Linked DNA regions of Homo sapiens: region 2 is linked to region 1. The links come from fine-mapping of genetic effects on gene expression. A gene starts in region 1. The other region holds a variant in brackets. All regions are shown on one strand. Distances are between the middles of the regions.

The links. PIP is the estimated chance that this variant, and not a neighbour inherited with it, causes the effect. A credible set is the group of variants that fine-mapping cannot tell apart.
Region 2: its variant is the best candidate, but not a certain one, in a credible set for the expression of KRT10 in whole blood (TOPMed, PIP 0.53).

The regions. Positions count from the first base shown.
Region 1 is chr17:40,820,857-40,823,785 of GRCh38, reverse strand. KRT10 (keratin 10) reads left to right here and starts at 1,172. Exons shown (of 8, transcript NM_000421.5): 1 at 1,172-1,827; 2 at 2,669-2,751. The coding sequence starts at 1,201. All of the region lies in intron 1 of KRT10-AS1 (KRT10 antisense RNA 1), which reads right to left.
Region 2 is chr17:40,790,289-40,793,217 of GRCh38, reverse strand. KRT28 (keratin 28) reads left to right here. Exons shown (of 8, transcript NM_181535.3): 7 at 8-63; 8 at 649-1,022. The coding sequence ends at 791. Among named protein-coding and RNA genes, the nearest start is that of KRT28, 8.2 kb to the left of the region's middle. The variant T/C (reference allele first, on the strand shown) is at 1,593.

The DNA.
Region 1 (2,929 bases):
CAGCACTACATAATTGTAAAACATGTATGAATATATACATCCAAACAACAGCAATGTCATAGCCTATGGGTAGATATAATCTTATACAATGTACCAAAATCCCAATTTACTTCACTAGACAAACTGTTATACCAAATTCTGTACACAGTATATCCAAGAAAATGTGTTGTTTTTATTGAGAAACTGAACCTAGCTTGGGAACACATGTGCACAGTCTAGTTCATAATATTTGGTGCAAGTATCATTCTCTAATATAGATTTACATTTTTGCAAGCAAATTTTTACTTGCAATCATAACATATCCAAATTTTCCCTTTTTACTCAATCAGAACTTAGTGTAAAGTACTACAAGTTAGTTCTTCGGATTTCATGCTAAGAAAATAATGCAGATTTTCTGCATTATTATGGTCTTCACAGAAACCTTAACTATGATGAATTTAAAAGTGCAAAATAATCCAGGATAACTTTATGATTTCAGATTTTTTAATGTTAAAAATAATGCCATCATTAATTAGAAAATTCTAAAATCATTACTTCCACTTTCTTAGGCAAAATATCAATATACTCTCATTTGCCAAATAAATTAAAAGATCTCCTACAAACACAATCTCCTAAATTGTGGTTTTATGGCTTTAATGTTTTATGTGTGGCAACTATTGATGCTAGTTAAATTTTTAGAAACTTTTTCTTTTTGATTCCCTACAGTTGTCTACAAGAACCTTATTGTAGCATGATCCTGCCAGACTTTATGCTATTTGTTGCTCCAATTAAAACTGTTTAAAACATGAATTTGAAAAATCTTATTTTAACTATAATTTTGTAGCTGAAACTTTTTTTTCTAAACTTTGCAAACATTCTATGCAACCTGAATTAGTGCTGAGAAAAATGGATCTTAACGGTTGCTCAATGTTCTTCAACAGGTGAAAAGCATAATAAAACATGCTCATCTGAACTCCACCCATTTTCAATTTCAACATAGCAAACCTCCTGTTTATTCTTAGGGCAAATTCAAAATTGTACATATTAGGATTGGTTATTACTGAAGATAATTTATGCAATCATAAGCCAAAGATGCTAAGTTGGCAAAAAGAAAACAATGTAAGTAAGCAAACTCTAACACATGTGGACACACCCTCTCAGTATATAAAGGCTTGTCACTGTCCTTGGTAGCAGGCACTCCCTGGGCTAAACAGCATCACCATGTCTGTTCGATACAGCTCAAGCAAGCACTACTCTTCCTCCCGCAGTGGAGGAGGAGGAGGAGGAGGAGGATGTGGAGGAGGAGGAGGAGTGTCATCCCTAAGAATTTCTAGCAGCAAAGGCTCCCTTGGTGGAGGATTTAGCTCAGGGGGGTTCAGTGGTGGCTCTTTTAGCCGTGGGAGCTCTGGTGGGGGCTGCTTTGGGGGCTCATCAGGTGGCTATGGAGGATTAGGAGGTTTTGGTGGAGGTAGCTTTCGTGGAAGCTATGGAAGTAGCAGCTTTGGTGGGAGTTATGGAGGCATCTTTGGAGGGGGCAGTTTCGGAGGTGGCAGCTTTGGTGGGGGCAGCTTTGGTGGAGGCGGCTTTGGTGGAGGCGGCTTTGGAGGAGGCTTTGGTGGTGGATTTGGAGGAGATGGTGGCCTTCTCTCTGGAAATGAAAAAGTAACCATGCAGAATCTGAATGACCGCCTGGCTTCCTACTTGGACAAAGTTCGGGCTCTGGAAGAATCAAACTATGAGCTGGAAGGCAAAATCAAGGAGTGGTATGAAAAGCATGGCAACTCACATCAGGGGGAGCCTCGTGACTACAGCAAATACTACAAAACCATCGATGACCTTAAAAATCAGGTAAGAGGTATTTTTAAATCCAGCTTTAAGTATCTTGTCCATGTAATCCAGACAGATGAATCTTAAATTAAGCACAATGTGGCTGTTCACTATGCTTACCCATGTTACTTTCTTCCTTCAAAAATAACCCAGTCTCATCAAAGATAAACATCTGTGAAACTATGGTCATGGCAATCTTCATCCAGCAAGTGTGCTACTTGTCTTAAGAGGATGGGAGATTTACTAAGCACTTTTGAGGTTTTAATGAGCATACAATGAGTCCACAGTTAAAATATGCTAGGCTATTTACAAATGTAGAAACTGAAAAAAAAAATCATGATATGAATCAGAACAAAATGTTATTCAGACTGATAACAAGCCATATTCAGTACCAACATGGCAAGAAAAATAAATTTTCCAGTATGAAAATGGGACACTGCTTGCCTCTAAGGAATTTCTGAATTGTACCTATTGTGTACCAGTTCAGAGTGTATTTATTTATTAGTATTTATCATGAGTTAAACAAATGCAGGTGTGAGTCAGCCAAAGCATGGCTGAAATACATGGAAATCACATAGTCTAAAAGAGGAGGGCACACTTACAGGAATACATCTATATAATTCCAGTTAGTTTTCAGAAAGGAATAATTCGTGTACAGAAATACAAGACTGGAGAAATTCCAAGAGAACAAATAATTCAAAGTTAAGTATATGGGTAAGCCTGCAATATTTCATATTTAAAATAAAAAATTTTCCCAAGATTTTGTAAGAGAACAACATAAAAGTGCAGAGTGCATCTATGTCACTACAAAAGCCATATCTGCATCTGACCTCTTCTCAAATAACTGTGCCTCTCCCTCCAGATTCTCAACCTAACAACTGATAATGCCAACATCCTGCTTCAGATCGACAATGCCAGGCTGGCAGCTGATGACTTCAGGCTGAAGTAAGTTAAGTGATCGTTGTATAATACTATCACAACGAATACATCAGTGGTTTTTAACAATGACTTGGGATGCCCTCAATAACATTTACATTTTTCTGAATTCACCCAAAGTTAAATAGTATTGGAGTTATCTGAGAAATTTTCCATGTCAGTGTTACCTTTTTGGCAATATTAAAGG
Region 2 (2,929 bases), 31 kb after region 1:
TTTACAGTTCATGCTCCAAATCAAAGGGCTTTGGATCAGGAAGCCCTGGGAATTCATCTAAAGGTAATAAAATCTAGTTCTATTTCTTTTCTTTTCTTTTCTTTTTTTAAATTTTTTTGAGACAGAGTCTCGCTCTGTTGCCCAGGCTGGAATGCAATGGTGCTATCTCGGCTCACTGCAACCTCCACCTCCTGGGTTCAAGTGATTCTCCTGCCCCAGCCTCTTGAGTAGCTGGGATTACAGGCACCCACCACCATGCCCAGCTAGTTTTTATATTTTTAATAGAGACGGAGTTTCACCATGTTGGCCAGGCTGGTCTCAAACTCCTGACCTCAGGTGATCTGCCCACCTCGGCCTCCCAAAGTGCTAGGATCACAAGCATGAGCCCTCTAGTTCTATTTCTATCACAGCAATACTTTTACATTAATGGCAGTCATACACTACAACCGTAGTCAATATTTAAGTAGTTTTAGCTAAACTGTTCTGAATAGGAAGTATCAAGTGGCTAAAACTATCCCAAGCTATTATTATAAATATATACTTACTCCCTCAATCAAAAATATGCATAATATATTATATTGAACTAGCAGTGGAATTGTCATGTAATCTTTTTGGTTGAATATATGTATGCCTATGTTTTATTTCTAGATTTATCCAAAACCACACTGGTAAAGACAGTGGTTGAAGAGCTAGATCAACGTGGTAAAGTTCTTTCATCAAGGATTCACTCCATTGAAGAAAAGACATCTAAAATGACCAACGGCAAGACAGAACAAAGGGTTCCTTTCTAGCTGTCATTTTAGAGAAAAGAATAATTTGGGAAAGGATCCTGTACAATTGCATTATTCTAAATATCAGAGAGAATATACACACTTTTTACTTTTAAAGATACATTACTTAGCAAAAATACCTGTTTTCTTAGTTTTACAGGATATTGAGTGTTTGTTTCCAATAAATAAAAAAGTTGATGTGCATTCATTTCCATTCACTGATGACTAATAAATAACTATTTGTGATTTTTTTCTATGTCTCATTCATAGAGAAACACTTGTGGAATATATTTTAATTGCCTTTCACTGTTGTTTTAAATAATAGTCAATACCGCCACATGGCATTTGAATATGAAACATTCACTATGCATAATCTTTAAATCACATCGTGTCTATGTGGGCAAATAATCAAAAACTTCAGAAATTCTCCTGTGACTGAAAAGTCTCACCACTAGATGACGCATTCCTGGTATTTTACCAAGAGCCTCTCTCAAACTCTTCTTTCCACAATACCCAGGATACCATTCCTCGTCTAAACAGGATAATCTCCGGAAAAATCCACAGCAATATGGCTTGTGTTAGTGACACTTTTCCTAGAACAGGGGTCAGAAGCTTTTTTTGTGAAGACCCAGATAGTAAATATTTTAGGCATGGCAGGCCGTAAAGTCTCTATTTCAACTACAAACCTCAGCCGTAGACAATAGATGAATGAATGAACATGACTGTGTTCCAATAAAACTTAATTTATTAATGCTGAAATTTGAATTGTAAATATTTTTACCTGTCGTGGAATATTCTTCTTCTTTTAACTTTTTTTGACCA[T/C]TTAAAAATGTAAAACCATTCCTAGCTCACAGTCTGTACAAAAACACATAGCAGGCCAAATTTAACCCACCAACACCTGTTCTCGAATGTGAAGCCCCATGAGGCTGATGAACATCATGATTCTTGTGATTATGACTATTTATACCTTTCTGGATCAAAATGTATGGTAGGAATTCCCAACAAATATTAAATTGCCTAAAAGGAAAGCAGCTCCTTTATTTCTCTGGTATATGGCCTGATTCCAGTGAAAATCTCCAGCAAGAGAAGGAATTCTGTCTCACAATCCTCCAGTCACATGGGATTCAGAGAAGTGGCAAAGAATGAGATATTTACAAAATCTTCAGCCAAAAGCCATCAAATGAAGCAAATACTAGAAATCCACAGAGAAATGATTTCCAAATGTACAATATTCAGGGCCAGCTACATAATTTTCAGGACCTAGCGCCAAATGAAAACATAGGATTCCTTGTTCAACAATCAGGAAAAATGTATCACCCAAAGGCACTAAAATATCAAGCTGTTTCCTTGCATCTGCATTTATGTTTTCAATTTGTCCTGGATTTTGTTGTTTTGATTTGGGGTTTTCTGTTGTTGTTGTTGTTGTTGCTGTTTTGTTTCCTTTCTTTTTTTTTCTTTTCTTTTTTTTTTTTTTTTTTTTTGCTATTTAGTTTTGTTCTAAGTAAAGTGTATTAGTCCATTCTCACACTGCTATAAAGAAACTACCTGAGACTGGGTAATTTATAAAGAAGAGGTTTAATTGACTCATAGTTCCATATGGCTGGGGAGGCCTCAGTAAACTTGTAGTCATGGCAGAAGGTGAAGGGAAGCAAAGACCTTCTTCACATAGTGGCGGGAAAGGGAGAGTGTGTGAGGGCACAGAAAAAACTACCATTTATAAAACCATCAGATCTCGTGAGAATTCACACTATCTCAGAGAACACCAGGGGGAAACCACCCCCATAATCCAATCACTTCCCTGTCTCAACACATGGGGATTACAATTCAAGGTGAGATTTGGGTGGAGGTACAGAGCCAAACCATATCATAATGAAAAATTAAAGTTCTAAATTATTGGCATACATGTTACTATGAGTTTTTATATTGTGCCATGCCAGTTTGAAATCCAAGCAAAAGAACATTTAACTTGTATACAGAATCCCCAAAATCACACAATTCATAATTTGTAGCTCATACATGCATATGTATTTTGTTCCTACCAAAACAGTGGAAACACTGCACAAAACAAACTCAATTGTTTTTATTTCACTTCTGTATATACCCACCTTCTACCAGCATTCTCTACCTTTGGTTTACCAATGAGTAAAAAGACTGAAAGG